Homo sapiens: one gene and its partners. The protein of the gene in region 5 purifies or fractionates together with the protein of the main gene of each other region. This does not show direct contact. Each region holds a gene or a part of one and is shown on either strand. Other genes may lie near its edges. The genes, in order: PAPOLA, FIP1L1, VSIG1, USP24, SYMPK, P3H1 and WDR33.

Region 1 (4,640 bases), on a different chromosome or scaffold from region 5:
GTGACAAGCGCCTGTAGTCCCACCTACTTGGGGGGGCTGAGGTAGGAGGATCCCTTGAGCCCAGGAGGTTGAGGCTACAGTGAACTGTGATTGCAACACTGCCTCTAGCCTGGGTAAAGTAAGACCCTGCCTCAGAAAAAAAAAAAAGAAAAAAAAAAACAAACAAACATGGCAATATTTTTAAAACAGAAATGGAAATGTACAAATACCTGGTTGTCAGTTTAATCACAATTATCAAGTTTGATGTATTAAGTTTGTTAAATGCATCTACTGGATATAGTAAGTCTAGTAAATACATATGCTGAATTAAAGTTAACTGTTTAGCTCTTCATCTATATGAATTATAAATTGATTACATACTAAAAAGTACCCAAATTTAGGCAAATAGCCTTATATTCAGCCAAAAATACCTCTCAATAAGGGGAGATCTCATTATACATGAGAACTTAATAGTACTCAAATATAAGGCAAACATCCTTACATTTAGCCAAAAATAATTCTCAATAAAGAGATTCCATTATATCTGAGAACTTTTATGTCTGTAATACTACAGTATGTTTTTCCAACTGAGTTTTAAGTAAAACAAAAACACTGGGGAAAGTACAGCCTAAAACAACCACAGTTAAGGCTAATTTTGAAGACATAGAATTCCGCTGACAAAATTGTTTCTTTTCTAAAGGAAAGGTGAGAGTGCAAAGAAACAGCACAGCTTTGGTAGTTATCCCTGAGGGTATGATTTCATGGTTCCAAAAATGTGGATGTCGCTGTAAACAAGCCTTTTATAAGATCACTTTTTTTTTGTTTGTTTGTTTTTTTGTTTTAGACAGAGTCTTGCTCTGTCGCCCAGGCTGGAGTGCAGTGGCAGGATCTTGGATCACTGCAACCTCCACTTCCCGGGTTCAAGTGATTCTCCTGCCTCAGTCTCCTAAGTAGCTGGGACTACAGGCACACGCCACCATGCCTGGCTAATTTTTTCTATTTTTAGTACAGACAGGGTTTCAACGTGTTGGCCAGGACGGTCTTGATCTCCTGACCTCGTGATCCACCTACCTTGGCCTCCCAAAGTGCTGGGATTACAGGCATGAGCCACCGTGCCTGGCTACTAGATCACTTTTTAAAAAGCAGTATTTTAGGAGCACATTTTAAAATATCATTTAAACATACCTACAGAAAAAAAATTGTACTGTTACACAAATAAGTACTTGTGGTCTAGGATAAACTGTTCAATGAAAAAGAACAGATTTCAAAGTCTCCCCCAATTTGGACAGAAATAAAGATTATAGGCTCATAAAACTAGGTAACTGAAAAAGCAACTCAGTAATAATACTGACACATTTTTTAAAGGATGGAATTACTTCAAAAAATATTGAAATGTGAAAATGATTACTAAATTTCCTAAAATATTATGTTCCTAAAATATTATTTTTTAATATAGCATGTATAATAGAAAATTAACACATTAAATGTTTTAAGTAGCCATCTAACTTTCCATCTTGATCCTGTAAAGTTTACAAAGTTAGGTCAGGTCTCCTTCCAAAAAAAAGTCCTCTTTGTCAGTAATATTCTTTTTAGGAAAATGAGGCCTCAACTTATACTTTATATTACAGATTATTTTTACGTTTACTTAAAACACTGACAGTAAATCAAAACTACATGAACTTGATAATCCTTTACCAAATTTAACATTTTATGTCTACTTATTAAGGTCAGTCACTTGACTTTTCATAAAATACAGAGTTGAGCGTCTTATGCAGCAACCTTAGATGCAGCCATTTTTTTGCAAAATAGTACAACAGTGAATTATCTTTTTTATTTTTTAAAGAGATTAAGTCTCGCTACATTGCCAGGCTAGATTTAAGCTCCTGGGCTCAAGAGATCCTCCTGTAGCAGCTTCCTGATAGGTGCACATCACTGTGCCCAGCTTCAATAAATTATTTCTCTTACAGTTTCCAAAATGTTACAATCTTCACTTTATTATCTGTGACTTTCCAGTACCATTCTGTACAGCAAAAGTAATGAATTACTAAAGTTGCTTCACTGTCAACTTTATTCTCATCACTTTAATTACACACACCGAAAGCAGCAAGGAGAAATGAACATCATCTCAAGAATTTGAGTCCATAAATCCTCCCCTATCGGAAGATATTTCAGCACTCACACTTTTCTCCCAATTTTTAAATGAAGTCAAAGCAAAGCATTACTTGCAAAAACACATTATGCTACTGCCTTAATGAGACTAAAAGCACACAAAACTGGCATATGGAAAAGCTACCAAAAAAACTTTTTTGTAATAGCATTTCAATCTTAAGGTTTCATTACTTCTGTTTTAGCTCCAAATTTCACTTGGTATTTTTAAAAAGATTTAAAATGGTATATTCTACAAGAATAGGCAGTCACTTCCATTTAAAAGCCTTAATTGTTATTAATATCACAACCAACTCACTAATTATAAACTTTAAACCAAGTTTTTAACCTATATCAATCAAAATTAGTGACAGCACATAGCAAGAACTGTCAATTTGAACTATACCTTACCTCTATCCCATCAAAACAGAGTTTAATAACTGGTACGAATGCCTCTTCAACAGCCTATAAGGAAAGTAAACAAGTTCAGGGTCTCTGAAACTACATTTTAAGCCTCTACTAGTTTTAGTACTTTAGCAAAACACCTGACACAAAAATAGCTAGCTTTAAGACTGGGCTGTTCGATCAGACAGATCAGAAATCAAGGTTCAAATATTTTACTTCACCCACTCATCAGATGTATGATTGTGGCCAGATTATTTCATATTTATTTTGTTTGCCTCAATTTCCTAATCTGTAAATGAGTTTATAATTTTAGGCTTGCTGTAAAGAATAAAACACAAACACATATGCCAAGTGTTTAGAAAGGTTTGGCAAATTGCAAGAACTCAATAAATGATGGCTATATCATAAAATTCACTCAACTGACTAAATGAATGTTCATAACTCATCCCATTTCACCCCGAACATTTACGCACTCTTAAATCTTTTACTTCTTCCTGTAATTTCAACTTATCATAGAATGAGGTGAAAAAGTCACTTCGATCAACATGTCTTGGTGCAACACACAACGCATCAATATCAGCACCTAAAAAAAATTAAGCCCATCAACCACTAATTAATATTACAAGAAAATTATTTTGCATCCTATCATGGTAGTATTTGATGTTGAGAATCTGTTTAACATACTGGTGAGCTTCTAAAAATGTTCCACCCCTTACTTAAAATTACCAGTCAATGGAGGACAAACATGATTTTAATTGATGTGGTATATTTTGATCCTGCAGCATCCTCTATTTATAGTGGCCCAAGTAAACTGGGAGCCCAAAGAAAGATGGCTCAGCAAGTACTTTCATGGTGGAGAGGGAATTATTCAAACATACACCCAACATCTTGATGTCATTAGTCATAGCCATGTTCATTGGTAAAACAAAAATAGTTTTCCTCTATGTACTACGTATTTGGTGCTTATAGGTTCTCTACCAGGCCCCTAAATGGGACCTACAAAATAAACTTCAAGCAGAAGAATCCAAAGAAGTAGACAATGGTAAAATATTTGTCATTAATTCAGTGCTTGATAAGAGGCCAGCACTAAGTACATAGGCAGAATTTTAAAAAGGAGAATTAAAATCAATTGGGGTCATAAAAGGGAGAGATTAATGTGGAATCAGGTCAACAGTCATTTTCCTAAAAGACAAGATGCTGAGGTATGACTCTGAAAGCTATTTATTAGAACAGGAAGAACGGTGTACAGCACACAGGATATATCAAAAGTAATGTACTAATGGGACAGAGTGATGGGAGATGGAGAGAGGAAAGGATACTAGAAAACAGACAACACTATCTCGGCAGATACAGTTCATGGTTAAAGAATACAGCCTCAGCTGGGCGTGGTGGCTCATGCCTGTAATCCCAGCACTCTGGGAGGCCGAGGCAAGTGGATGGCTTGAGCCCAGGAGTTCGAGACCAGCTGGACAACACGGGAAAACCCTGTCTCTACCAAAATAAAATTAAAAAATTAGCCAGGCATGGTGGCGTGTGCCTGTAGTCCCAGCTACTCAGGTGGCTGAGGCCTGAAAATCAATTGAGCCCAGGAGGTGGAAGGTGCAGTAAGCCAAGACTGTGCCACTGCATCCAGCCTGTGCAACAGAGCAAGACCCAAAGACAGTACAGCCTCGGGATGCCTGAGTTGTACCTACTCTGCCACTAGAAGGTTGAGAAAAACTGTTCAAGCTTTATTGCCTCTTTTAGTCTCAGGCTCCTGTTTGTTATGTGAGAATAACAGTACTGGAAGAACTAAATAAGATAATGAAGATCTCAGTACTCAGTGAAAGAAAAGAAGCTCAATAAATGTTCTTTGCCGAGGTAACATTTTTATTGTGTATTTATTTGCATAGAGGAAATAACTACAAGTATAAACTATTAACTGATTATCATTGGCTATGAATACACATTTTTGGGGTTTGCTTTTGCTTAGCTATATTTTATAATTTGTCTATAAAGGTATTAGCGGGGGGCATCCATGAGTTTTCTTAAAAGCTAGAATTCATTTTTGTTCTATTTCCAGAGTGATATTCTTCTGGTGAGGGAAAATGATATATATGTAGATAGCAGCA
Region 2 (4,640 bases), on a different chromosome or scaffold from region 5:
ATGGGAGCAGACTCAAGAACAAAAAATGAGAGCAACCAAGGATAATTTACTAAAATTCACCTTAAAAAGATTGAATCTGCCATCTTGGATCTCTGCACCTGGTGTAACTTCCATAGTACAGTCTTCGGCCTAAGTTAAATAACATATTCCCCATTAAGATACCACATAATATTTAATTAATAGGCCATATAAAGACAAACTAGCTGTGGCTAGTCTGTGATTTGAAAGTAAGAACATCAGATAATCATTAAATACGAAACTCTAAAAGGGAGGGAAGGGAAAAACAAACATGGTAAACAAAATGGAATTTTTAAACTATCATATAGCATTTAACCACTTTTATAGGGAAGCGATTTATTTGGGGAGTAAAAGTGGGACGGTAGACAAGCCAAGGGTATTCCGGAGTATTTATTAATTACCGTAATTTTATTTGTAGTAGAGGTTACTGGTATAACTTCAAGTCCCATTCGTATCCTCTTTTGTTTTTCACAGTAAGCTTTCCAGGTATCTTCATTAAACCCATAATTAAAATAATCAGAAAGATCAGCACCTAAAGATAAAACACAACTTTAGTGTACAAATATTTCAGCTCTATTTTTATGCAGCATCAAAAATATACTAAACTATAAAAATATAAATTTAGAGTTCTATCAGTTATCACTCTATCATTTATGGTGGCAAAAAGACTATATCATTTTTGATCAAATTATTCCCTTTACAAACGCCATTATAATAAACAATAAGTCTACATTTTAAGTAATACAAGGCCACCAGTAAGATTTAATAATCCCAAGTCATTATTACTCATCATTTGCTTAAGACAATTAAAATTATAATGAAAAAATAAAATTCTAAATTGATGTTCAAAAAAATTTTCTGATGACTTCACACTGAAAATATTGAAATTAATATAATCCACAATAATCTTACCAGGTTTACGCCATGGTTTATCTTCAAAAGAATCCAAATCTACCTCTAAGAGTGGAACTCCATTAATGCTTCCAGGTGCATCAAGGTCTACTCCTTTGACTTTTGTCCCTGTTTTATAAAATTACAAAATGAAGGAGCTATACTTGCAAGAAGCCAGGCGATACCATAGACAAACAGAAAATATAAACACCTTTTTACTATTCCTGGCACATATACACACACAAACAGAAAACAAACATCTTTTTACTATTCCTGGCAAAAAACCTGGCAAGGGTTCCAAACAAAGCAGAGCCTAAAATACGTGCTACTGGACTCTTGCCAGAAAAACTTTACCAGTCTCTGTGATGTACGGTCAAAAATTACTCTTTAAAAAGAGCTATTATCACCTTGGCCGGGCGCAGTGGCTCACACATGGAATCCCAACACTCTGGGAGGCCAAGGCAGGTAGATCACTTAAGCTCGAAAGTTCAAGAGCAGCCTGAACAACATGGTGAGACCTGGTCTCTACATAAAAATACAAAAATTGGCCAAGCATGGTGGTGCACGCCCGCAGTCCCAGCTACTTGAGAAGGTGAAGTGGGAGGATGGTTTGAGCCCAGGAGACGGAGGTTGCAGTGAACTAAGATTGCGCCACTGTACTCCAGCCTGAGTGACAGAGCCAGACTCTGTCCCCGACTAAAAAAAAAAGCTATTAAGACCTATTTAAGATATGTGCCTTATTTCCCTATTGATGCAACAGAAAATACAAATTTTACCTGTAGTTCCATAAACTCTTCCCCCTGTCTTGATGTTAAGATTTACAGGTGCTGTACCATAACTCCTAAAAACAAACAAACAAAAAAAAACAGAAATTATCCTGAAAAGCTTAAACAAAACAGTAATATATTCCATTTGTACAAACAAATTATACAATCACATAGTAAATGGATAGTGTGACACACATTTTATTTCTATCTTTATTTTTTAAATTTTGTATAGATGAGATCTCATACCATGTTGTCCAGGCTGGTCTCGAACTCCAGAGCTCAAGCAATCCTCCCACCTTGGCTTCCCAAAATGCTGAGATTACAAGAGTGAGCCACCGTGCCCAGCTAACACATATTTTAAAAAACATTTTAAACTGATTTTTAAAGTCACTTGCTCAATAAAAGGCAAAAACAGTAAAAAAAAAAAGCCTGACTTGTTTCCATTTCAAAAACCTTTTTGCCAATAACTCAACATTCTACTGTAACAAACTTCACAAGAAATAAGGCTAAGAAGGGAAAAATAGTTTACACCCCTTGTCTTCATTTCCTTGCCTCCCAGTTATTAAATATACAGCACTCTTAAGCATAAGTAAAATTCCTCCAACTTGTTGTCAAATCTAGTGGCCTTTCAGTTCTTCTTGCATTTGATATTGTTAATAAATCCTTTTTCAACTATTCATGGAGTACTCAGTCCATAACAGAAATTTATTGACAAGAAATTCAAAAATAAGTCTAGCATGAAAGCAGAACAGTGTTTGCCGGTGGTGGGTGGTTAATGACCAAGAGGCAAAATGAGAGAAACTTCTAGGATGCCAATTATGTTTCATATCTTGATCTGGCTGTAGTTACATGAATGTATATATTTGAAAAAATATTAAGCTGCACCTTTTTAGATGTAATATAATACACAGTGATAAAGAAAAAAATATCTGAAGTTGGACCAACCCACATTCAAATGTTTTGTCAATTGCTAGTTGTGTAATCTTGGCCAAAACACCTAAGACTTGTATACAATTATTTGAATAATTCATTGCATTTTTACTTGTATAAATGAGCCTTGTATACATTTTCTGTAATACGGGGTTACAGACAGTTCTTTACTTCTTTATATAATGGATTCTTATATATGAGTAGTATTATCAAATATACTAATTAAAAGAGACTTTTCTGTTACTAGGGAAGTTAGAAGAAAACGGGAATGGGCAAAGAAGGACCAACTCCCACTGAACAAAAACATATCAGTAAGACGGCCGGGCACGGCGGCTCACGCCTGTAATCCCAGCACTTTGGGAGGCCGAGGCGGGTGGATCACGAGGTCAGGAGATCAAGACCATCCTGGCTAACACCATGAAACCCCGTCTCCACTAAAAAATAGAAAAAACTAGCCAGGCATGGGGGTGGGCGCCTGTAATCCCAGCTACTCAGGAGGCTGAGGCATGAGAATGGCGTGAACCCAGGAGGCGGAGCTTGCAGTGAGATCGCGCCACTGCACTCCAGCCTGGGCAAAAGAGCGAGACTCTATCTCAAAAAAAAAAAAAGATATCAGTAAGACCTCAAGTCACAGATGTTTATAATGATATATTTCTCACATTATATTCATGTTATATATTTGGTTCTTTTCTCTCAGAACTTCAGCCATCTGGACTTCAGATTCACTGCTTTGGGTCTAATAATAATTACTTCCATCTTTTGTCTCTGATGTACTACATTTAAGACTTAGGTTTAGTTACATTTGCACTGTCACTTTTCTTTTCTACTTAAAAAAGAAAAATGTAAATTCAATAAAATGTTTAATTGTATCAAATAACTGTAGCTCCACAGCTAGAAATGCAAAAATTACAAAGTGGACCAAATATTACTACTGTCAAGCAGTACTATCGTCACCAACTTGAAATAATCATTTCATAGGCTGATTAATTCATGTAATGCTTACTGAGCACCAAACCATGTCAAGTATGGTTCTAGGCTGAGGAAAAAGTATGAGGAGCTGGACAATTACGGTTCCTGCCTTCACGATGTTTACATTTTAACAATCCAAATTCAGAAAAAGTGACTTAGCGGTATCTACATATGATGTACATGATTTTTCTACAAATGTACAAAAATCAAGGATTTTCTCTAAACTGTTCTCTTACAGGACCGTATAGAATAAAACAGTATTTTTATAAAAGGCTTAGCCACAAGTGTTCAATAAATGAGCTTCTTCGCTTTCCACCTAGCTACTTTCTATTCCCCATTCTGCCTTTTAAAACATCATTTTTCTTTTTTAAGCCACAAGCCTTTGTAGAGAAGCCTGTGTAGAGAAGCTTAGTGGTATGAAAAATTGCAGAGGCAAATTTGATATAATGTCCAATAGATCCCTATGAAGTCTCAGACCACTCTAAATGCTAGATCCTATACTTGGACTTTCTATAGGAACTCCAAAATAAACATGTCAAATGAATCTGTTTTGTGGGAGGTGGGAGCAGTAGCACCCACCTGTACCCAATTAACTGCTCTAGAAATCTTTAAGTCACTGAGCCCTTTATCTCCTCCTCCATCCACAACCAACCAGTTACCCATGTTATTTGTTTCTATTTATTCTTTGAGACAGGATCTTACTATATTGCCCAGGCTGGCCTGAAACTCCAAGGCTCAAGCAATCCTCCTACCTCAGCCTCCCAAGTCCATGGGACTACAGGTGTATACCACATGCCTGACTATATTTCTGTTTCTCTAATACTCAAATGTACTATTTTCCCATTCATCTCTCTACTACTGCTGCCTTAGTCTAGATTATCATCTCACCTGGACAACTACTTCACATCTATTAGTCAATGTCTCTCTATCTAACCCATCTCAACTACTGATGCTAGAGTTATCTTTTCAAATGATATGACCTGTCTAAAAACCTAATTAGGGGTGTCTAAGGGAGAGAATACAGTCATGAGTCCTTAGTTTCTGTTTCTGGTTAGGCCAGTAAAG
Region 3 (4,640 bases), on a different chromosome or scaffold from region 5:
TTCTACTCTAATTCTGAGTTCAACTCTTTTAGATCTCACATATAAGTGAGATTATGTGGTGTTTGTCTTTCTGTGTCTGGCTTGCTTCACTTAGCATAATGTCCCCCAGGTTCATTCATGCTGTAGCAAATGACAGAATTTCCTTCTTTCTTATATTTTTATAACTTCTTTTTCTTTTCTGCAAGTTTCCTTTTTTTTCTTTATTTGTTTTAAGATAATGTTAATTGATTGTTGAGGCATTTTTATGATGGCTACTTTGAAATCCTTGTCAGATAATTCCAACATCGAACTCATCTTAATGTTGGCAGTAGTTGCCTTTTCTCAGTCAAGTTGTGATTTACTTGATTCTTGGTATGACAGATGATTTTTGATTGAACATTTTGTCTACTATGTTAGGAAACTCATATTTACATTTTTTATTTTTGCAGTCAGTCACATTATTTATGCTTCACATGCAAGCAGGTGTTGGCTTACTTTTGTGGTCTGTTGTTCTAACAGCAGTTTAATTTTCAGTATTGTTTTGCTCTGTTTGGTTTATCGGATATCACTGAGGCTGACATTTGTCCCAGATCATATCGCCTGAAGGAGCAGAAAGGTTTCCCTAGGTCAGGCTTCCAGGTGCCTCTCAGTTGGGGTAGGTATGGTGGGACACTTCTACTGGCGCCCTGCACTGTTGGTGTCTCTATGGGTAGGAGAGGACAGTCATACACCCACTGAGACAGAGCCTTCCCAGACTGGGCCGCTTGCCATCACTTTATGCCTCGTGTCTGTTCTACCCTCCCACCTCGATATCTCTAGGTGAAAGTGGGACATCTCAGGCCTGGGGAGAAGGCAAATGCTTCTTTTGTCCACTGTTGTTGGTGGGGTTTCTGAAGATCCCCCCTTACCTGTGGTGTTGGGCCTACCTGATGTTGTCAGAGGGACTCTGAGGGAGGAGTAAGCTTACCTGGGCTGCCCTCTGTTGTTCAGTTGGGTATCAGGAATGGCCAGGACTAGGTTTCTTTCTTCTGCTGGGTGGGAAACATAGGATACCCTTGCTCTTTGTTTTTCCCTGGGTCTCAAACCAGTTTGCCTTCTCCTTACAACCTTCCAGAGTTCTACCCTGGTTGTCTCTTGCATTATTTCCAGGGTTTATACTTGTGCTTAGCAGGGAGGAACAATGAAAAACAGGTCTGTACTACATGTCCAGACCAGAAATCTCCCTCAGTTTTTAAGAGTGTAAAATTGTCCTGAGACCACAAATTTTGAGAACTGTTGGCCTTACAGAAAGATGAAGTAATTAAGCTCCCCATAGGATTTGGAGGCCCACCGAAGGGCACCCTACCCAAATCCAGCCTGCCACTACACTAAAATTCTCAGTTCTATATGAGCACTTTCCAAAGGGCTATTTTAGGTGATGGCACTTTGGGGAGCACTATACAGTCACTGTCTTATCTTATTAACTGGTTGCTATGCATTGCATTGTCGAAGACTATAAAAGTTCTCCAGGATGGGTCACGGGATTGGCAGGCAAGCACTGGAAGAGAAAGTCAAGTTCAAGAGACGCTCTCTATGCTGTCCTAGTTGCCTGCAGGGTAACAGAGGGTGTTGGAGGGTTGAGGGTGAAGGGATGAGGATACAGAAATTATGAAAGATTCAGAGGAAATTGCATAGAGGGACTAATTCCTGTCCATCTTCCCAATTTTGCATACCCAAAGACTTATTTATTTCATATTTTTCTTACTTAATGACAGCAGTCAGACAAAAAGAACTTAAAGGATTGACAAACACTTTTAAAAAGTAAAAGAAAAAAAATCGTTGTACTGATTACTCTTGGTTTCATGGATTCAATATCTGTGTTCTCTGTCACAGCCAGGTCACCTGGTCCAGCTGCTTTCCTGCCAGAAGCTGGCTGTTTACATGGCAACCAATGCACTGATAAATTAAGAAAAGTGCCTGAATGCAAACAAAAATGCAGCACTTTTTAACTCCATACAGTTTCCCTCTTCCCAATATTCTCCTCCCCATGCTTTCCTGGTTTCCATAATGCCTCCTCCAAAAAGGAAATTGGCTTTCAGAAAGCAGCTAATCTTTCCAACAAAAACTTCACTGGAGAAAGATGGTTCCCTCCCACCCTCAAAGAGCCCATTTCATTTCTCCTGGAAGTTAGCCACATCTCTGGCCGTGCTTAAATGATGACTTCCAAATGTCTTTAAAGTGTCCAAAATAAAAAGGATAAAACTGGGGTTTTGGTAGCCCTTAAAGTTCCCAGACTTATTCCCTAAAAACAGAGATTTTAGAGATATTATTTGGCCATAATTTTTGTTCTCTAGTTTGGGACCCAGTATCTGTTACGAGATTGGTTAAGGGTGAGAATTTATGAACAGATAAGGCAAAACAATAAACAAAACCCCACAAACCCCCTTTGAAGACCACTCTTGGAAAAAGTGTTTGATGGCAGAGTACACACAGTACTCACACAAGTCAAGCCATGGAAGAGGCTGTGGAGCCTAGCAACAAATATCAATTGAGCACCCATTTTGTGCCACAAACAGTGCTGAACACTGGGGAAACAAGAATGAACATGACAGACACAATCTCTGCCATCCCTCAGTGCAGCAGGAAGCCATTTATAGCACAGATGAGAATAGAGGTGAATGAAAATCAAGGATTTGGAAAATATAAATCTGATTCAAACATTTCTAACATTTTAAATATAGAAGATATATAAATGTGTAACTAATTAGAAATCTGCAAAAGTTTAATAATATCACCTTGGAATTAGGATGGTAATTTCAAATTTTAAAGTGAGACAATATTTTTTGAGGTACTACACATTGTCATGTAAATAAGTAACAGTTGGCAAAGCAAAACCTCCAGGCCATTTTATTGCCCAGATTCCCAATTCTTAGCACCATAACCAATTAAATTCTGAAGAAAAGATGTTTTTCAGACATTGTCCAACCATGATATAGTGATGATATGCTTCAGAGCTAAAAGTTATATATTTCCAGATGAGCCTTTTTAAAATGTCACATCATTCAATTAGTGCACATTACTTAAAACCTCTGAGCTCACCCTTACAGTGCTGTCCAACAGAACTTCCTGTGATGATGGAAATGTTCTATCTCTGCGCCATCCAGTTCAGTAGCCCAAATAGAATTATCAAACACTTGAAATGTGGCTAGTGAAACTGAGGAACTGACTTTATAATTTTCATTAATCTGAAGTGATTTAAATTTCAATAGCCACATGTAGACAATGGGCAGTGCAAACTTAGTCCTAAAGTGGAGGTGATTCTCTGAGTGTCAGGGAAAAAAGTTCCCTTCCTTTGGATTAAGTCATTCTAAGTTGAGAAATTATTTAAAAATTGAATAAGTCAGAAAAATCTCTACATCAATAGGACTGTGAATAAATAGCAAAGTAAAGATTAGTATCTGATTTAAACAAAACCCAAGAACGCAATGTCCCTCTCTGACTTGACCAAATTTAAAAACAAAACAAAAATGCATATGTGGTTGAAATATGTGTAATCTCTTTTAAAAACCAGTGCTTACCTGCACGTTGTGCACATGTATCCTAAAACTTAAAGTATAATAATAATTAAAAAAGTGCTTATTATTAAAGAAAAATAATCCAAGATGTACACACTTAATCAACATTTAAAAATATTTTTAGGCTGGGCGCAGTGGCTCACGCCTGTAATCCCAACACTTTGGGAGGCTGAGGTGGGCGGGTCGCCTGAGGTTGGGAGTTCAAGACCAGCCTGACCAACATGGAGAAACCCTGTCTCTACCAAAAATACAAAATTAGCCGGGCGTGGTGGTGCATGCCTGTAATCCCAGCTACTCAGGAGGCTGAGGCAGTAGAATCACTTGAACCCGGAAGGCGGAAGTTGCGGTGGGCCGAGATCGTGCCATTGCACTCCAGCCTGGGCAACAAGACTTAACTTCGTCTCAAAAGAATATATATATGTGTATATATATATATATATATATATATATATATATATATATATGTGTGTGTATATATATATATATATGTGTATATATATATATGTGTATATATATATGTGTATATATATATATGTGTGTATATATATATATGTGTATATATATATGTGTATATATATATGTATATATATATGTGTATATATATGTATATATATATGTATATATATATATATATAGAGAGAGAGAGAGAGAGAGAGAGAGAATGTCTTGTATTTTGGTGGTGATTGTTCATTCATTTAATGCCTACAAGGTGGCAAACATTTTGCTTATAGAAGGATTATTATCCTCCTAATGTACCACAGCAAAATATCCCCCAAATATTCATATTTAATCTGATAGATTTGAAGTGATTTAATTTCCAGCAACTTCATATATAATAGATTCATTTTGACTTAGGAAATAATATAATCAAATGATCACTCACTTTTTTGGATTTGAGTGCAAACTCAAAGTTCAAATATATTACTCCTTTAAAATGCATAGCATATACCTCCAGAAAATGAAACCCACATTAACATATCTTTCTAAGAGGTGACTAATACATATTTCAAATACCTAAAATGATATGCATAAATTTTTTGCAGAAGTTTGATTAAAACTCGTTTTCCTGAATTAGAATTTAACCTAAGAATTCCTAAGAAGTCATTG
Region 4 (3,253 bases), on a different chromosome or scaffold from region 5:
AGAAAAGAAAAGGAAGTTAAAGTTCATACGGTTAGAGAAAAGGTTTTCTATGCTGACTTGTGTTCTGCAATTTAAACATGTCTTCATCTGGCAACTTAATGCAATGTTTATCAAAGGGTAATAAAATGTGATAACTATTACATCTAATATTTGACAATTCATGATTATGTAAAACATGTACATTTCTATGATCTCATTTAGTCAGTGAAACAACCCAGCGACTTGTCTAAAGTCACAATGCTACTCTGCACCCATGTGAGAACGCAGAGCAGTGATAAAGCTGGGAGAGGCATTGATGGCCATTGTGCCCGCTTCACGTTGGGCACTGTGTGAGCCTCCCTGCCCTGCACCTGCCAAATATGGGCTCTGGGTCACTCCTGGGTCTGAAGGCTACCTCTGTTACCATCTGTGTGGCCTTTGGCTTACACACTTGGCGAATCGTTCTGAATACTCACCGTGTGCCATGGGGCTGATCTAGTTGGAGCTGGGGTGGGGAGGAGCAAGGACAGTCTCTCTAAAGTGACAACCTAAGCTGAGTGAGAGTTGGGGGTGAGTAGGGGGGCCCTGAGGTGGAAGGAAGAGAGTACATTTGATAAATAAAATTCAGAAAATGGGCCAGGCACAGTCGCTTATGCCTGTAATCCCAGCTACTTGGGAGGCTGAGGCAAGGAGAATCGCTGGAACCTGGGAGAAGGAGGTAGCAGTGAGGTGAGATTGCACCACTGCACTCCAGCCTGGGTGACAGAGCAACACTCCATCTCAAAAAAAAAAAAAAAAAAAAAAAAAAAATCAGAAAATGGGGGTGGGGAGGTGCGCAGGTGCTAGATCAAGCAGGACTGTGTTGAGGATTCTGGCTTTTCTCCTCATACAAAGCCTTTGAAAGGTTTTAGTGCATGAACCAGAGAGAAGCAGGGGTGGAGGTGAGGGGATCCTTACAGATGTAGGCAGAGAGGGGCTGATGACAGGTGGAGGAGAGGGACGAGCACCCTTTCAAAGGGAGCTGTCCGGGATGACATGGGGGTGCTGTGTGTGAGATAAGGAACACTGACGGAGGGCCAGCTTTGGTGGGCGCAGGGAGGAGGGGCTGGGCACATCGAGTCTGAGGTCTTTAAGGTATGCCAAGTGGAGAACGTCAAGAACAAGAGAGCTGGATGTTCATGTTCAGAAATCCAAGGTGGGTGCGGAGAGAATATGGAGTGAGGGCAGGAGGATACAGGTTAGAGACTCCACAAACCTTTACTGGTGGTCCAGAAGAGGCAGTACTAGGAAGGAGACAGAGAAGGAACAGCCAGAAGGGTTTGAGGAAAACTACGAGAGAGAAGTGTCAGGAAAGCCCTGGAATAGTGTTTCAAACGGGAAGAGCGCCAGGAGCGCTAGATGCTGCCGAGCAGTCGGCTAAGATGAGGCCTGAAAGCTGCAGGCCACCTGTCACCCCAACTGCTGAGTTGGAGAGAAGAGGGAGTTAGCAGGGAAGAGGCTGAAGAGCGAGTGAGAGATAAGAAAATGGGGAAAGTTAAGTTTAGAGAATTAGTCGAAGTTTGGCTGCAAAGAAGAGAAAAGAAGGCAGGGGCAACAGGGAGAAGAGAGGCTTTGACAGGGCAGAAGAGAGGCTTTGACAGGGCAGAAGAGAAACCAGTGTGCTGAGACGTCGCTGGGAAGGGTCTGGCAGGGTGGAGCGTTCTGGATATTGAAGAGTTACATACACATTAGAACGCAAAGCTCTGCCAAGGTGGGCGGGGATGAGCGCTAGGGGCTTTGGGTGGACAGAGGCAAACTTCCCACTGTCACAGGAGAGGAGACAAGAACAGTGCAGATGCTTGGGAATTAGTGGCCGCAGGAGCTCTCCTGTGACAGCTTTTATTTTCTCTGCAAATGAAGTAGGTGATGAGGTAATGTGTGGAGTGACCTTGGGCTAAGTCACATCACTGTGCTGGGCTGCAGTTACCTTTCTGTAAAATCAGGGTGACAGCTGCCTCACATAGTGCTTATGAGGATCCGAAAGATAACACTTAAAAAAAAATGACACCTACTACATCAGTAACATTCATTTAATGGGGCCTATTCTGTACCAAGTACTGTGAAGGGACCACAGAGGAGACTGCTGTTAAGGAAAGTTACAGACTATTGGAAAGACGTAATGATTAACTGACACTTAGTTCAGTGTTTGCACACAGTGGGTGTTCAATACATATTTATTTTCTTTTTCTACTATAATGATTGGTATTAAAGCTGTTTTTTTTTCTTTTTTTAAAAATACATGTCAAAATTTTCTTGGACTCCCCTGGCAAGCAGGTATACTTCAAGAGCACGGGAGCTTTTCTTTCAAGAGTCCACATTTCCAGGAAGGCTGGTGAGAGCAAACGAGGGACTTTCAGTAACCTGGCAAGGCAGAATAAAGTGAACAAGCTGGAACGAATCCCCCTGTGCCCTGGCTTCATCGGGACTACCTGCAGGCTGATCAGGGTGGCCAGCCACAAACACCTCGAGGCCTTCCATTCACTTCACACTGCAGCACTACTCAGCCCTGTAAACACACGGTTAGTGCATATGCTGAGCTGAGATCACTAGAGGGCAGCGCTGGTAACTCTTTGGACTCACATTCCAGAGGAAGCATCTTGTTTTCCCTCAGCTGTGGAAATTCTTTTTGGAAAGCTTAAGAGCAAGGCTGCCCTTTGCACACAAGGACATGCTGACCGTTATACCTGCTGTAGATGCCTGTCTCCGTTCTCATTGGCAGGACTACTCTCCGACCCATTACTGCTTCCTGATTGCTCTTTTTCATTCAACAAAGCTGTGGCATACGCTAACGTGTCCTGCAGAAGATTCAAACACAAGACGACAAAGTTAGGGCCCATTCAGTGGCAGCAGCAACCGCCAGGGAAGACTACCTTTCATCTGACCTTCAGTGGGACCGGAGGCCTGAGAGTGAGGCCTTCATCACAGTCACCAGAACCCCCTCAACCCCTGTCCCTTTTTGTGACCAGACTGCCCAACCTGTATGACTTTCCTTCTAGACAAATAATCTGCACAAATTTGTGTAAGTGTACACCAATCTGTTTTCTTTTCATAGAAATCCAATTGTTTCTTCTGCTTGTTCTCATCTTCAACTCATACCTCTCTTCTCAGAGGTTGCAGTTTCTGAGAAACACACTGAAAATCCTCCATAAGTGATTTAGACCACGCAAAAACAAGAGACAACTCTCACCTGAGCTGAAATGGTTCGCTGAAAGGTTTTTCCAGTTGATGTTTCATT
Region 5 (4,640 bases):
CCTCAAAACTCCAAACAATTTTTAGGCTGTAGTAAGTGACATTCTCACCAACAGTGTACAAGTGTTTCCCTTTCTCCACATCCTCGCCAGCATTTGTTGTCTTTTTGATAAAAGTCACTTTAACTGGGGTGAGACATTTCATTGTAGTTTTGACTTGAACGCCACATTATTTAAAATAGTGAATTAGGCCGGGCGCGGTGGCTCACGCCTGTAATCCCAGCACTTTGGGAGGCCGAGGTGGGCAGATCACGAGGTCAGGAGATCAAGACCATCCTGGCTAACACAGTGAAACCCTGTCTCTACTAAAAATACAAAAAATTAGCCGGGCGTGGTGGCGGGCACCTGTGGTCCCAGCTACTCGGGAGGCTGAGGCAGGAGAATGGCGTGAACACGGGAGGCGGAGCATGCAGTGAGCCGAGATAGCGCTACTGCACTCCAGCCTGGGTGAAAGAGCGAGACTCCGTCTCAAAAAATAAAAGTGAATTAAAAATCTAAATGACCATCAACAGAGCATTGCTTAATAGAATGTAATGTAACTATACTATGGAATATGGTATAGCAACTATATGATTCTCACAGGGAAGGACGTCACTGATACTATTAAGTCAAAAAGGCTGTCAAACAATACATAAGAATAGTTAATATTTATGGAATGTTTACTATTCCAGCCATATTAATACACCAAATGCTCATACCTACATCCTAAATTAGATGCCATAATAACGATCCCCAATTTACCAATGAGGAATCAGGCTCAGAGACAAGGGAAAATAGGCTGTGTGTCAGACACAAGCTACTATAATGTCTCTGAGATGAAAACACAAAGCATGGCCTCATTTTTGCAAACAGAAAAGCAAACAAATGCAGACACTATGCATATACACATACAAATACCTACATGTGCACAGGAAAGATCTGAAAGGAAACATAATACTCTTAACAGTGTTTATCTCTGGAAAGCAGGACTGAGGGAGGGGACATTATTCCTTTTGATTCACCCATATTGCTTGACACCAAGTGTATATATAGTACTTTTTTTTTTTTTGAGACAGTCTCATTCTGTCACCCAGGCTGGAGTGCAGTGGCACAGTCTCAGCTCACTGCAACCTCTGCCTCCTGGGTTCAAGCGATTCTCGTGCCTCAGCCTCCCAAGTAGCTGGGATTACAGGTGCCCGCCACCATGCCCGGCTAATTTTTGTATTTTCAGTAGATAAGGGGTTTCACCATGTTGGCCAGGGTGGTCTCGAACTCCTGACCCCAAGTGATCTGCCTGCCTTGGCCTCTCAAAATGCTGGGACTATAAGCATGAGCCACCACACCTGGCCTATGTCCTACTTTTATAATTTGCAGTTAAGAAAACTGTAAAACTGCCCGGCGCGGTGGCTCAAGCCCGTAATCCCAGCACTTTGGGAGGCCAAGGCGGGCGGATCACAAGGTCAGGAGTTCGATACCAGCTTGGCCAATATGGTGAAACCCTGCTTCTACTAAAAATAATTTTTAAAAAAATTGGCCAGGTATGGTGGCGGGAGCCTGTAGCCCCAGCTACTTTGGAGGCTGAGGCAGAAGAATCTCTTGAACCCGGAAGGCGGAGGTTGCAGTGAGCTGAGATTGTGCCATTGCACTCCAGCCTGGGCGACAGAGGAAGACTCCATCTCAAAAAAAAAAAAAAGAAAACCATAAAACTAGCTAGCATCGACTGGCTCACACTCATGGAACTTCACTACAAACCTGTGAGAGTGGTACTATGTTATCGTCTCCAATTTACAAAAAAGAAAATGAAGTACAGAGACAGGTAACTTGCCCAAGTTCATGATGAGTAAGCAGTGCAGCTGGGATCTGAACCTAGCACCAGGGATCTTAACTACTGCACACACTGTTCCAGAAATTTAAAACCAAAAAAGACAAGGGGGAGAGAGGGAGGGGCGTGAAGGAGAGGAAACTGGTGCAGGGCTGTCAGGGGTGGCAGCTGAAGGCAGTACTCACTGTACTGGATGTAGGGGTGGTCACGAGGGATGCGGTCCAGGCTGATATCATGCTCCTGGCGTCGGGGTATCTCTGAGTCAGCCATGCGGGGTGACAGGGTGACAATGAGGCCCTCCACAAACTTGATGGCGTGGGTGCGGATGCCGTCATTGTCAGAGTCCAATAGCAGGATGATGTCCCCCGCCATGGCAGATACCATGTCCCAGCAGGCCTCCTGTAGCTCGCTAATGACCCGTGACTTTACCATCCACTGCCAGCAGGCCAGGAAGGAATGGAAGAGACACACAAAGAGGTGAAGACAACGCATCAATCACCAACACCCTCTGCCAATACCCAGAGAACCATGAATGATGAATACATTCATTTGGTTAACAGTTACTGAGTTCCAACTCTGCCCCAGCCCAGTGCTCGGTGATGCTGGAGACAGGACTGAGTAGTGGCCAGGCCTCGCCCTGCCCTCATGGGGATGCAGAGAGTGACCACTCAGTGTGATGAAGGCACACATCTTCAGGGTAAAGGACTAACAGTGCTGACTTCACAAGGTGGTGGTGATTAAATGGATTCATTCGTTTTATTAATGCTAATGTACATCACACCATAGAGTGTTCTTTTCCTATCACACTCCATAATCAATATTTATGTGATTCATTAATTAAGGTCTACCTCCCTCCTTGGGTTATGAGCACTGTGAAGGCAGTAAGCTGTCTTGGTCACTGCTGTGTCCCCAGCATCACCTAGCCCAGGGCTAAGCACAGAGGACATACTCAGGGAATGTCTGTTGAGTGAATAAACGGATGGTCAATGGAAGGAATGAAGGTTAAGTGCAACTTCCTGACCTAGGAGACAACGTTAGCTCTCCATGTTATCTGTTCCCACAGACCAGTGGCACATCTTGCCCATAAAGAGTATGCTCGGATGCTGGTTTTGAACCCCAACATATTAGTTTGTCAACGAGACATATCAGGCAGGATGGCCCTGGGTGGGGAGGGCGCTCTCACCTGCAGGGCCACCTTGTAGAGCTGGGTCATGGTGAGGATAGCCTTCTTCACCACGTTCACATTCTCGTCCCTCAAGAGCATGTTGAGGTTTGCAATGAGTTTCAGCAGCAACTCAATGTCTCGCTTGCTGAGGGATGGAGAAAAAAGGGGCGAGGTCAAGGTGTGGTCTTAGAGCAAGTAGGAGGAGCCTGAGGTCCAGGAGGGAAGGGAAATCAGGGACCTGTCTCAGGGGACCGGAATGGCACATCCAGAAGCTGGGAACAGTGCTTGGTGCCTCCAGACTGAGCCGCCCCTGAACCCTCTATCTAGACTGGTCCTGTAACACCAACTCCTTTGCTCTCTCAGGGCCCTGCTGTTCACATAAGGGACAGTAGGGGCAGACAACTGTGTGAATTTGGACAAGCGACTTCACCTCATTTAGAATAATAGTATCTATCCAATTGTTTATGCAATTTTTTGGGAAAATTGCAACAATACTTGTAAAGTGCTTAGAAGAGTGCCTGACATGCAGAAAGCATTCAGTAAACACCAAAAAGCATTCGGTAAACACCAGCCATTGCTACTTTAAAGCACTTTGTTTTCTGTAATCACTAGTTTTGCTTGCCTCAGTCTGAGGGCTCAAAAAGTAGGGACCCTTTCCTAGCTTGGCAATAACCCCAGCAGGGTCATTTTCATTGAAGAAAAAAATGAAGGGCCTCCAACAAATGTTCAATGAATAAATAGGAGCTCAGCACAGAATTTTCACAGCATACATTACAATCTGAAATATTAATTAAATCAGTCAAAAAATATGAAACTTAGCTGTCAGCTACATGAAGGCAGGAATAATACGTTTTTGCTCACTGCTATACTACAGCCTAACATGGATGCCTGGTACGACAGCAGTCACATGGTATGTATTTGCTGAATGGACTTTTTACAAATTCAGAAAATTTACCACAAATTCTCCCAGTAAATGGGGAGATAGGATATTTGGGTTCTGGCATTGCAGACATGAGTTAAAATCCCAGCCTTGGCCAGGCGCAGTGGCTCACGCCTGTAATCCCAGCACTTTGGGAGGCTGAGGCAGGTGGGTCACCTGAGGTCAGGAGTTTGAGACCAGCTTGACCAACGTGGTGAAACCCCATCTCTACTAAAAATACAAAATTGGCCGGGCATGGTGGCGGGCACCTGTAACTCCAGCTACTTGGGAGGCTGAGGCAGGAGAATCACTTGAACCTGTGTGGTGGAGGTTGCAGTTAGCCGAGATCGCACCATTGCACTCCAGCCTGGGCAACAAGAGCGAAACTCCATCTCAAAACAAAAACAAAAACAAAAACAAAAAAAAACAACAACAGAAAACAAAATTAGCTGGGTGTGGTGGCAGGCACCTGTAATCCCAGATACTCGGGGGGGCTGAGGGAGGACAATCACTTGACTCAGGAGGCAGAGGTTGTAGTCAGCCGAGATTGCACCACTGCACCCCAGTCTGGCCGACAGAGTGAGATTCCATCTCAAAAAAATAATAAATAAATAAAATCCCAGCCTTGCCACATTCTGGCTGTGTGACCTTAAGAAAATTCACTTCACCTCTCTGAGACTGTTTTCTCTTCAGTTAAAGGGTCAAACAACTGATCCATAGTATTACGAATAATGAAGCTGCTCAAGCATTTAATACAG
Region 6 (4,640 bases), on a different chromosome or scaffold from region 5:
TGAGCCACTGTGCCTGGCCAAAAAACATTTAACTCTTAATCTAGATGAAAGATATCTAGGAGTTCATTATGATTTTCTTGTACTTTTCTTCCCCCCCCATTAGTGACAGATTCTTGCACTTTTTTTTTTTTTTTTTTTTGAGTCGGAGTTTCACTCTTGTTGCCCAGGCTAGAGTGCAATAGTGCGATCTTGGCTCACTGCAACATCCGCCTCCAGGGTTCAAGCAATTCTCCTGCCTCAGCCTCCAGAGTAGCTGGGATTACAGGTATGCGCCACCACGCCTGGCTAATTTTGTGTTTTTAGTAGAGATGGGGTTTTGTCATGTTGGTCTGGCTGGTCTTGAACTGCTGACCTCAGGTGATCTGCCCGCCTCGGCCTCCCGAAGTGCTGGGATTACAGGCATGAGCCACCGTGCCTGGCCTAGGTTCTTGCACTTTTTTGTAGGGCTAACAGTTTTCAAATAAACACAACTTACTTTTTGTTTTGTTTTGTTTTGAGACAGAGTTTTTTTTTGAGACAGACAGCCCAGGCTGGAGGGCAGTGGCATGATCTCAGCTCACTGTAACCTCCACCTCCTGGGTTCAAGTGATTCTAGCGCCTCAGCCTCCTGAGAAGCTGGGATTACAGACATACACCACCACACCTGGTTAATTTTTGTATTTTTAGTAGAGACAGGATTTCACCATGTTGGCCAGGCTGGTCTTGAACTTCTGGCCTCAAGTGATCCACTCACCTCGGCCTCCCAAAATTCTGGGATTACAGGCATGAGCCACCACGCCCGGCCAACACAACTTACTTTTTTTTGTGTGTGTGATGGAGTCTCGCTCTGTCACCCAGGCTGGAGTGCAGTGGCACAATCTCGGCTCACTGCAACCTCCGCCTCCTGGGTTCAAGCGATTCTTCTGCCTCAGGCTCCTGAGTAGCTGGGAATACAGGCACACACCACCACGCTCAGCTAATTTTTGTATTTTTAGTAGAGACAGGGATTCACCATGTTAGGCAGGACGGTCTCAATCTCCTGACCTTGTGATCCGCCCGCCTTGGCCTTCCAAAGTGCTGGGATGACAGGTGTGACCCACTGCACCTGGCCACAACTTACTTTTAAAAGTCATTCTTTTTTTTTTTTTTTTTTTGACTGTTGCTCTGTCACCCAGGCTGGAGTGCAGTGGCACAATCTTGGCTCACTGCAACCTCCACCTTCCAGGTTCAAGCTATTCTCCTGCCTCCATGTCGAGTAGCTGGGATTACGGGTGCATGCCACCATGCCTGGCTAATTTTTGTATTTTTAGTAGAGATGGGGTTTCACCATATTGGCCAGGCTGGTCTCAAACTCCTGACCTTAAGTGATCCACCCACCTCGGCCTCCCAAAGTGCTGGGATTACAGGTGTTAGCCACTGCGCCTGGCCTATAAGTCATTCTTATATTGTTTCTAACATTCCTATTTTATAATTAAAATGTAAGGAACCATAAACTCTCTATAAAATGCTATATCATCACAGACAGTCCCTCCTTTGGAACTTTTCCTGCTAAACAAATAGAATGAGAACATTGAAGGATACTGTAACATTTATTGTAGTGAAAATCAAAAACATACATGACCAAAAAAATGTGACTAGTGAATTAATATAGTCTCTGCATAAGATGGACTATCATGCAGCCATAAACAATTATGTTTTCAAATAAAACTGAAGACATGAGAAAAGACTCATGATAATAATGTTAGTTAAAAAATGATGATGGGGCTGGCCATGGTGGCTCACACCTGCAATCCCAGCACTTTGGGAGCCCAAGGCAGTAGGATCGCTTGAGGCCAGGAGTTTGAAATCAGCCTGGGCAACACAGTGAGACCCCGTCTCTACAAAAAATAAAAACAATAGCTGGGTATGGTGGTGCATGCCTCTAGTCCCAGCTATTTGTGGGGCTGAGGCGGGAGGATCACTTGAGCCCAGGAGGTCAAGGCTGCAGTGAGCTATGATCACACCATTGCACTGCAGCCTGGACAACAAAGTGAGACCCTGCCTCAAAAAAAATAAAAAAGATGATAAAAAATGCATACATGATATAACACCAAATTAGATGAAAAAATTATATACGGAAGACTTAAAAAATAGGGCAAAATATAAACTGGTTTTCTTAAGGTGGCGGTATTACAAATGATTACTTTTTATTTTATACTTACCTACATTTCTACAATGTTATACAATGAACATTCATTACTTCTGTAATGTAATTAGAAAACAACCTTAGTAATGTCATTTAAAAAAAAACAAAAGAATGCATGCCTGTAGTCCCAACTACTCAGGAGGCCGAGACTAGAGGGTCTCTTGAGTCCGGGAATTTGAGGTTACAGTGAGCTATGATCAAGCCACTGCACTCCAGCCTGGGTGACAGAGCAAGACTCTGTCTCTAAAATAAATTTAAAAAGAAAGAAAGAAAGAAGGGGATAAAGTTTTTTTCACCATATGGGGTTGAGTCTCAAGATCCTTGAAGTCGGCCTCCTTCACTCCAGACATGGTTTGGTAATAGTCTAGGTTCTGCTGCATTTCCATGTGCTCAGGATTGCCCACGAAGAAGGTGTGTGCTGCAGCAACAGCTTTCTCCAACTTGTTGATCTAAGAATGAAGCATGAGAAGGTGGATAATGCTCACATCCAATCTCTGAACGTTTGTGTCCACATGAGCAGTCCACATAAACAGGAAATCCCTGCCTCCCTGAGCCCTCCACTCAGCGTGCCCAGCCCCTGCCAGCCCCAGGAAGCACACCTATTGCAGGAACTACCCACGACAGATTAGGAGCATAGTGCCCTGGGCAGATTTGTAGCTCTTTCCCAAGTCAGATTTAGGGGTTCCCCAGATTACAGGAAGTAGCAATGTTCCATTTTAAAACAAAGGTCATATTGTATGGGGAGTGCTGTGAAAGACTGACTGCCCACATAATATGTTTTCATGCTGGGTGCGGTGGCTCAGGTCTGTAATCCCAGCATTTTTAGAGGCCGAGGCAGGTGGATCACTTGAGCTCAGGAGTTCAAGACCAGTCTGGGCAACATGGTGAAACCCTGTCTTTACGAAAAATACAAAAATTACATGGTACTATATGCCTGTAGTCCCAGCTACTCTGCAGGCTGAGGTGGGAGGACGCTTGGGCCTGGGAAGCAGAGGTTGCAGTGAGCCAAGATGGTGCCACAGCACTCCAGCTTGGGTGACACAGCAGGACCCTGACTCAAAAAAAAAAAAATACATATATATATTTCATGAATCAAATGTAATGCCTGAGCTGAAGAAATTCTGTGGCTTCAAGGATTTAGGGGTAGAGAAAAAAGAGCAGCTAACAGACTATGCCTAAGAATTTTCCTAGAAAAAAATTTTTTTTTGCATAAAATAAAATGAAGAATTTTTGAGACATTTAGGGAAAAGGTGGATGGCTAAAAATTCTAAGGTCCTTTACTAAGTCCAGACATAGTATTTTCTGACTCAAAGCTCAGGGCTCATGAGGTTCAAACAAATAGCTCTAAGAAATCTGAGGGGGTGGTCGGGGGCGGTAGCTCATGCCTGTAATCCCAGCACTTTGGGAGGCCGAAGGGGGCAGATCTCTTGAGGTCAGGAGTTTGAGACCAGCCTGGCCAACATGGTGAAACCCCGTCTCTACTAAAAATACAAAAATTAGCTGGGCGTTGTGGCGCACACCCGTAATCCCAGCTTCTTGGGAGGCTGAAGCAGGAGAATCGCTTGAACCCGGGAGGCGGAGGTTACAGCGAGCCGAGATCACAGCACCATACTCCAGCCTGGGTGACAGAGCGAGACTCTTGTCTCAAAAAAAAAAAAAAAAAAAAAAAAAAAAGAAATCCAAGGGGGGAGAAATAGGCTACAGACCACAATGCCCACAGCAATGGACTCCAGCATGTCAAAGTAACACAGGTTTCATATATAGAATCCAACCAAATAAATCACTGATGATCTAGTAATTAACTATGTGGACACTGGTATCAAAGAGACCAGCCGTGGCCAGGCACGGGGGTTCACGCCTATAATCCCAGCACTTTGGGAGGCTGAGGCGGGCGGATCATGAGGTCAGGAGTTTGAGACCAGCGGATCATGAGGTCAGGAGTTTGAGACCAACAATAGCTGGGCGTGGTGGCATGTGCCTGTAATCCCAGCTACTCAGGAGGCTGAGGCAGGAGAATCGCTTGAACCCAGGAGGCGGAGGTTGCAGTGAGCCGAGATCGCACCATTGCACTCTAGCTTGGGCAACAAGAGCGAAACTCCGTCTCAAAAGAAAAGAGGGCTGGGTGCGGTGGCTCACGCCTGTAATCCCGCACTTTGGGAGGCCGAGGCAGGTGGATCACAAGGTCAGGAGATCCAGACCATCCTGGCCAATATGGAGAAACCCCATCTCTACTAAAAATACAAAAATTAGCCGGATGTGATGGCACGTGCCTGTAATCCCAGCTACTCGGGAGGCTGAGGTAGGGGAGTCACTTGAACCAGAAAACCAGAAGTCAGAGGTTGCAGTAAGCCAAGGTCGCCACTGCACTCCAGCCTGGCAACAGCGAGACTCCATCTCAAAAAAAAAAAAAAAAAAAAAGAAAGAAAGAAAAGAGACAGGCCAGCATCACATCTGGGCTTAATGACTCACTGACTGG
Region 7 (4,640 bases), on a different chromosome or scaffold from region 5:
AATCTGAGACATTGGACCTTGTCCTGGAAAAGGCTGGGGTCCGAGGAGAGGGGTGCCAGATGAGGGAGGAGGCTGAATTTGCTCAACTTGTTTCTGTGCAAGTCTTTCAATTTTAAGTTGCTGGAAAGAAAGAAAGAAAAAAGCATGTTGAATAAACAGGCCAGAGCCCTTGAAGATGACAATATTGCTATCATGTATTCTGTTAGGGGACTCTCAAACATAAAAACTGCTCAAACTCTTCACGCTCCAGTGGTAATTAGAGTCCATGCAACACTCAAGCACTGTAAGGAGTTTTAGGTTCTTTCTCATTCTTTTTAAGTCCTGGGACACAGTAGTAAGGATTTTTTTTTCCTTATTTTTTTTTTCTGTCCCCCAAGCTGGAATGCAGTGGTACGATCGTGGTTCACTACAGCCTCACCCTCCTGGGCTCAAGTGATCCTCCCACCTCGGCCTCCGGAGTAGCTGGGACTACAGGCACATGCCACCACACCCAGCTAATTATTATTTGTAGAGACAGGGTCTTGCTATATTGCCCAGGCTGATCTCAAACTCCTGGGTTCAGCTGATCCTCCCGCCTCGCCTCCCAAAGTGCTGGGATTACAGGCGTGAGCCACTGTGCCTGGCCTAGTCAGGATTATTTTTGTCCATCTTGATCAGGGAAAGCCCAATAATTCACCACTAATTCATCATTCTTGGTAGCTAACATAGATAAGAAAAATAAGAACAAGCTACCTGCTATATGAGCAGACAAAAAGGAAAAACTCTTTCATAAACAGGTGAATTCAAATTAAAACTATGTTGGCTTTATCTTTTCTATTAAAAATGTATATTTAACTTAGATCTACTCACTGCCCCACTAATTCAGTTTTTTTATGTTGTTGTTGTTGTTTTTGAGACAGAGTCTCACTTTGTGGCACAGGCTGGAGTGCAGTGGTACGATCTCGGCTCACTGAAACTTCTGCCTCTGGAGTTCAAGCCATTTTCCTGCCTCAGCCGCCCATGTCACTGGGACCACAGGCATGCACCACCATGCCCAGCTAATTTTTGTATTTTCAGTAGAGGTGGGGTTTCACCATGTTGACCATGCTGGTCTCAAACTCCTGATCTCAGGTGATCTGTCTGCCTCGGCCTCCCAAAGTGCTGGGATTACAGGTGTAAGCCACCACGCCTGACCCTAATTGGGTTTTAAAAGTCCAAGATATGACTCAAGGAAGTCACTTAAAAAAAAATTAGTCAGACGTGATGGTGCATGCCTGTGGTCTCTGCCACTCAAGAGGCTTAATGTGGGAAGATCACTTGAGCCTGGGAGGCAGAGGTTGTAGCAAGCCGTGATCGCACCACTGCATTCCAGCCTGGGTGACAGGGCATGACTCTGTCTCTAAAATAAAATAAATAAAACAAAATACATAAATAACACATTTTAAAAAATTTTAAGAAACAGGATTCTTTTGGAAACTAGTCTTCTAGCATAGCAACAGGAAATGGCGGTGTTTGTCAGACCATGGGAGAGCCCCTTCCCTTTTCCTTAAGAGCCTATCAATAAAAATGTCACCACTACCCTCTTAGATCATCTTGAATTCCCCCCTACAGAGCTTCACACACCTCCAGAAGTTGTGGGTTAGTATATTGTAATGTAGCCATTTCTTGCTCAATTTCTGCTTGTGTTTTTTTCTTCTCTTCCAATTTAATGTCTTCTTTTCTGTCATTCAGCACCTCATTTGGAGCAGGAATTGGAACTTTATTTTGCATCCAAGCCTTGGGAAAGAAGAGAATATTAAAATGTACGCTAAGTATGAAAATTACAATGATAGAATGAGAAAACCACTCTACAATGTCATCTGCTCAATCTAACCTCTGAACCGATTTTATTTCTTTTTACCTTTTCTCCATGACTCAAGTACATGACTCATGCTAATTCTTACTGACATATTACTAGGTAGAAATTACTATGGTGATAAAAGCTGCAAGACACTGCATGTTATTAAGAATGCAAAGCTTGCCAGCCTCTTCACAGGGTACATGCACTTTGTGTTGAGGGGACAATTAAAGCACAAGATAGATAAACAATGGAGAAGAGAAGCAACATACTCCCATACTCCCTCTGCTCCATGCCTCTTTCTTCTATTTCCTCTCATAGCATGGATGATAATAAGCAGGTGAGGACAGAACAGAGAAGACTGATAACAAACTCAATACAACTGCAAAGCAGTAGATGAGAACCATGTCTAAGAGTACGTGAACATGGGAAAAATGCTCCAGTACAGAAACACCTTCAACAGTGAGATAATCCAAGAGAAACCTCAAACTAACCAACCAAAACCTCTCTGCGTGGATGAGGTGGAGTCACTTTTACTTACCTGCTGGAACTGAGCAGGAATGGGTTTTGCATAAGGAACTTTCTTCTGAGGTACTTTTTTCTGATCCTTTTGCATCACTTCCTCCATTCCCCAATCTAAACCTGGAATTGTCATTTCAATTTCATTTGATTCATCTTTCCCTGTAACCGTAAAGAAAAGTGGTTTGCCTCTTAAATAAAAGAAATTGGCCACTTGATCAATGAACACATTATTGGAAGAATAGATTTTAAGTATTATGTCATTTATATAATTTTTATCAACATTTCTCAACATAAATCATTTTGGTATTTCAATATATTTATCAGGAACATAAACGGGTCAAGAAAAAATTTGTAAAAATTAAATGTGTCTGTGTAACTTCTCTTACCCATCTGTTCTTGTTCCATAGCTAATTTTAGTTGTTCTGGTATTCCCATTCCTGGAATTACTGCCAGGCTATTAGGTTCGAGGTCATCTATAAATAGTAATACACCATTGTCAATAGAGAATTTACAAAAGTAGCGACTGATAAAATTAATGCTTTATAAAAATGAATGTCACTGATGATTTATAAATAAATCTACTATAAAATTAAAATTCATTTTGTATAATCTTCCCAACATCTAACACTTCTGTAATAGAATACCAGATTTCAAAGAAGGACAGATGTGCAAGAGTCTCACCATATTCTACTCCATCTTCAGACATTCCAGGTAAAAGGTTTAGATTATATCGATCTCGCATTTTATCACCTGGTCGGTTTCGAGTCCAGAATTTGCTGTAAAAATAATTAAAGGAGAAAAGAAGCATGGCTTCACTATTTTTTTGGGCACTAAACAGTACTAGGCAGACCCTTGGTAAACACAACACATTTTTACAATTTGTTTCTTCTACAAATTTAAAATGTGAGGTCATACACTTTGGCTCACATCTGTAATCCCAGCACTTTGGGAGGCTGTGGCAGGAGGATTAAGTCCAGGAGTCCAAGACCAGCCTGGGCAACATAGCGAAACCCTGTCTCTACAAAATAAAAATTAAAAAGTTAGCTGGGTGTGGTGGCACACACCTGTAGTCTCAGCTACTCACGAGGATAAGGCGGGAAGATGGCTTGAGCCCAGGAGTTTGAGGCTACAGTGAGCTGTGATCTCACCACAGAACTCTAGTCTCGGTGACAGAGTGAGACTCTGTCTCTTAAAATAATAATAAAAATAAAAATAAAATGTGGGGCCGGGCAAGGTGGCTCATGCCTGTAATCCCAGCACCTTGGGAGGCTGAGGCAGGAGGATTGCCTAAGCCCAGGAGTTTGACATCAGCCTGGGCAACATGGTGAAACCCCATCTCTACAAAAAATGCAAAAATTAGCCAGGTGTGGTGGTGTGCTCCTATAGTCTCAGCTACTCAGGAGGCTGAGGTAGGAGGATCACCTGAGCCCAGGAAGGTTGAGGCTATAGTGAGCTGAGACCGCACCATTGCACGCCAGCCTGGACAGAGACCCTGTCTCAAATAAATAAATAAATAAATAAATAAAAGTGGAAAACTTCTGTTTTAAGTCAGAAGGCAAAACAAAATTTGAATAGCCAAAACCATATTCAATACCCAATCTCTTTATTGCAATATAAGTATTTGTAAACCACTACAAAAATATTCCCAAGAATAAGTTGGAATATAAATTACTATATCAATCAACCAATAAAAATAAACACATACAGTATTTATTTCCTGTTGCTCCATATAAAGCTTTGCTATTTCAATATAAAGCTTACCTAGTATGGTCATTTGAGCCTGAGCAGAGAATATGCCCAAGAGGATGCCAAGCCAGACTCCAGATCATCCCTTCGTGAGCCATCTCCATCCCACCCACTTCCTTCTCTACCCTGCAACAGCACCAAAGAGAGAAGATTTGTTCACAAAAGTTACCCAGCTTCTCCCTCCCCCTCAAAAAAGACATTTTCTGTTACTCTTAAAATGAAGCTACCAAAGCCTGGACTTGGACTCTGGTGAATTCCACATGTCTCGGGGTATTGGCTTGTCATTGCCAAAGGACAGTTACCCTTTCATCCAAAGAGCACTTCACAGGGGAAAAGGCTGCAAGCATTTAGAAACTAGAAAATCTATTTTATTCCTCCTTAATGACTTCCATATCCACAAACAGAGGTACATTTTCTATTCCAAGCTGGATTTACAGAACTGAAAACTGCAAGCAGTCTCTGATATAGGATATATGAACACTTAGAAAAGCTACAAAACTATCATGTCTGCACACATTCACGTGCTCTCTTCACAAAATACACTACTTTTTCACAT

What was found.
Region 1: the proteins of SYMPK (region 5) and PAPOLA purify together in Homo sapiens (co-immunoprecipitation; one study listed by IntAct). This does not show direct contact.
Region 2: the proteins of SYMPK (region 5) and FIP1L1 purify together in Homo sapiens (affinity purification with mass spectrometry; 2 studies listed by BioGRID and IntAct, with this or other methods). This does not show direct contact.
Region 3: the proteins of SYMPK (region 5) and VSIG1 purify together in Homo sapiens (co-immunoprecipitation; one large-scale study listed by IntAct). This does not show direct contact.
Region 4: the proteins of SYMPK (region 5) and USP24 fractionate together in Homo sapiens (co-fractionation; one large-scale study listed by BioGRID). This does not show direct contact.
Region 6: the proteins of SYMPK (region 5) and P3H1 purify together in Homo sapiens (co-immunoprecipitation; one large-scale study listed by IntAct). This does not show direct contact.
Region 7: the proteins of SYMPK (region 5) and WDR33 purify together in Homo sapiens (affinity purification with mass spectrometry; 4 studies listed by BioGRID and IntAct, with this or other methods). This does not show direct contact.

Annotation. Positions count from the first base shown.
Region 1 is NC_000014.9:96,525,902-96,530,541, reverse strand, and holds part of PAPOLA (poly(A) polymerase alpha), read right to left. Parts: intron 3,113-4,640; coding exon 3,003-3,112; intron 2,590-3,002; coding exon 2,536-2,589; intron 1-2,535. UniProt on the Homo sapiens protein: Polymerase that creates the 3'-poly(A) tail of mRNA's. Also required for the endoribonucleolytic cleavage reaction at some polyadenylation sites.
Region 2 is NC_000004.12:53,386,919-53,391,558, reverse strand, and holds part of FIP1L1 (pre-mRNA 3'-end-processing factor FIP1), read right to left. Parts: intron 1,751-4,640; coding exon 1,686-1,750; intron 1,039-1,685; coding exon 931-1,038; intron 551-930; coding exon 420-550; intron 130-419; coding exon 61-129; intron 1-60.
Region 3 is NC_000023.11:108,047,319-108,051,958, reverse strand, and holds part of VSIG1 (V-set and immunoglobulin domain-containing protein 1 isoform 2 precursor), read right to left. Parts: intron 1-4,640.
Region 4 is NC_000001.11:55,069,112-55,072,364, forward strand, and holds part of USP24 (ubiquitin carboxyl-terminal hydrolase 24), read right to left. Parts: coding exon 3,206-3,253; intron 2,814-3,205; coding exon 2,703-2,813; exon of another isoform or gene 2,448-2,702; intron 2,348-2,447; exon of another isoform or gene 2,287-2,347; intron 1-2,286. UniProt on the Homo sapiens protein: Ubiquitin-specific protease that regulates cell survival in various contexts through modulating the protein stability of some of its substrates including DDB2, MCL1 or TP53.
Region 5 is NC_000019.10:45,845,769-45,850,408, forward strand, and holds part of SYMPK (symplekin), read right to left. Parts: intron 3,109-4,640; coding exon 2,982-3,108; intron 2,234-2,981; coding exon 1,984-2,233; intron 1-1,983. UniProt on the Homo sapiens protein: Scaffold protein that functions as a component of a multimolecular complex involved in histone mRNA 3'-end processing. Specific component of the tight junction (TJ) plaque, but might not be an exclusively junctional component. May have a house-keeping rule.
Region 6 is NC_000001.11:42,759,863-42,764,502, forward strand, and holds part of P3H1 (prolyl 3-hydroxylase 1 isoform 1 precursor), read right to left. Parts: intron 2,614-4,640; coding exon 2,461-2,613; intron 1-2,460. UniProt on the Homo sapiens protein: Basement membrane-associated chondroitin sulfate proteoglycan (CSPG). Has prolyl 3-hydroxylase activity catalyzing the post-translational formation of 3-hydroxyproline in -Xaa-Pro-Gly- sequences in collagens, especially types IV and V.
Region 7 is NC_000002.12:127,720,234-127,724,873, forward strand, and holds part of WDR33 (pre-mRNA 3' end processing protein WDR33), read right to left. Parts: intron 4,211-4,640; coding exon 4,100-4,210; intron 3,115-4,099; coding exon 3,020-3,114; intron 2,812-3,019; coding exon 2,725-2,811; intron 2,498-2,724; coding exon 2,358-2,497; intron 1,756-2,357; coding exon 1,603-1,755; intron 121-1,602; coding exon 1-120. UniProt on the Homo sapiens protein: Essential for both cleavage and polyadenylation of pre-mRNA 3' ends.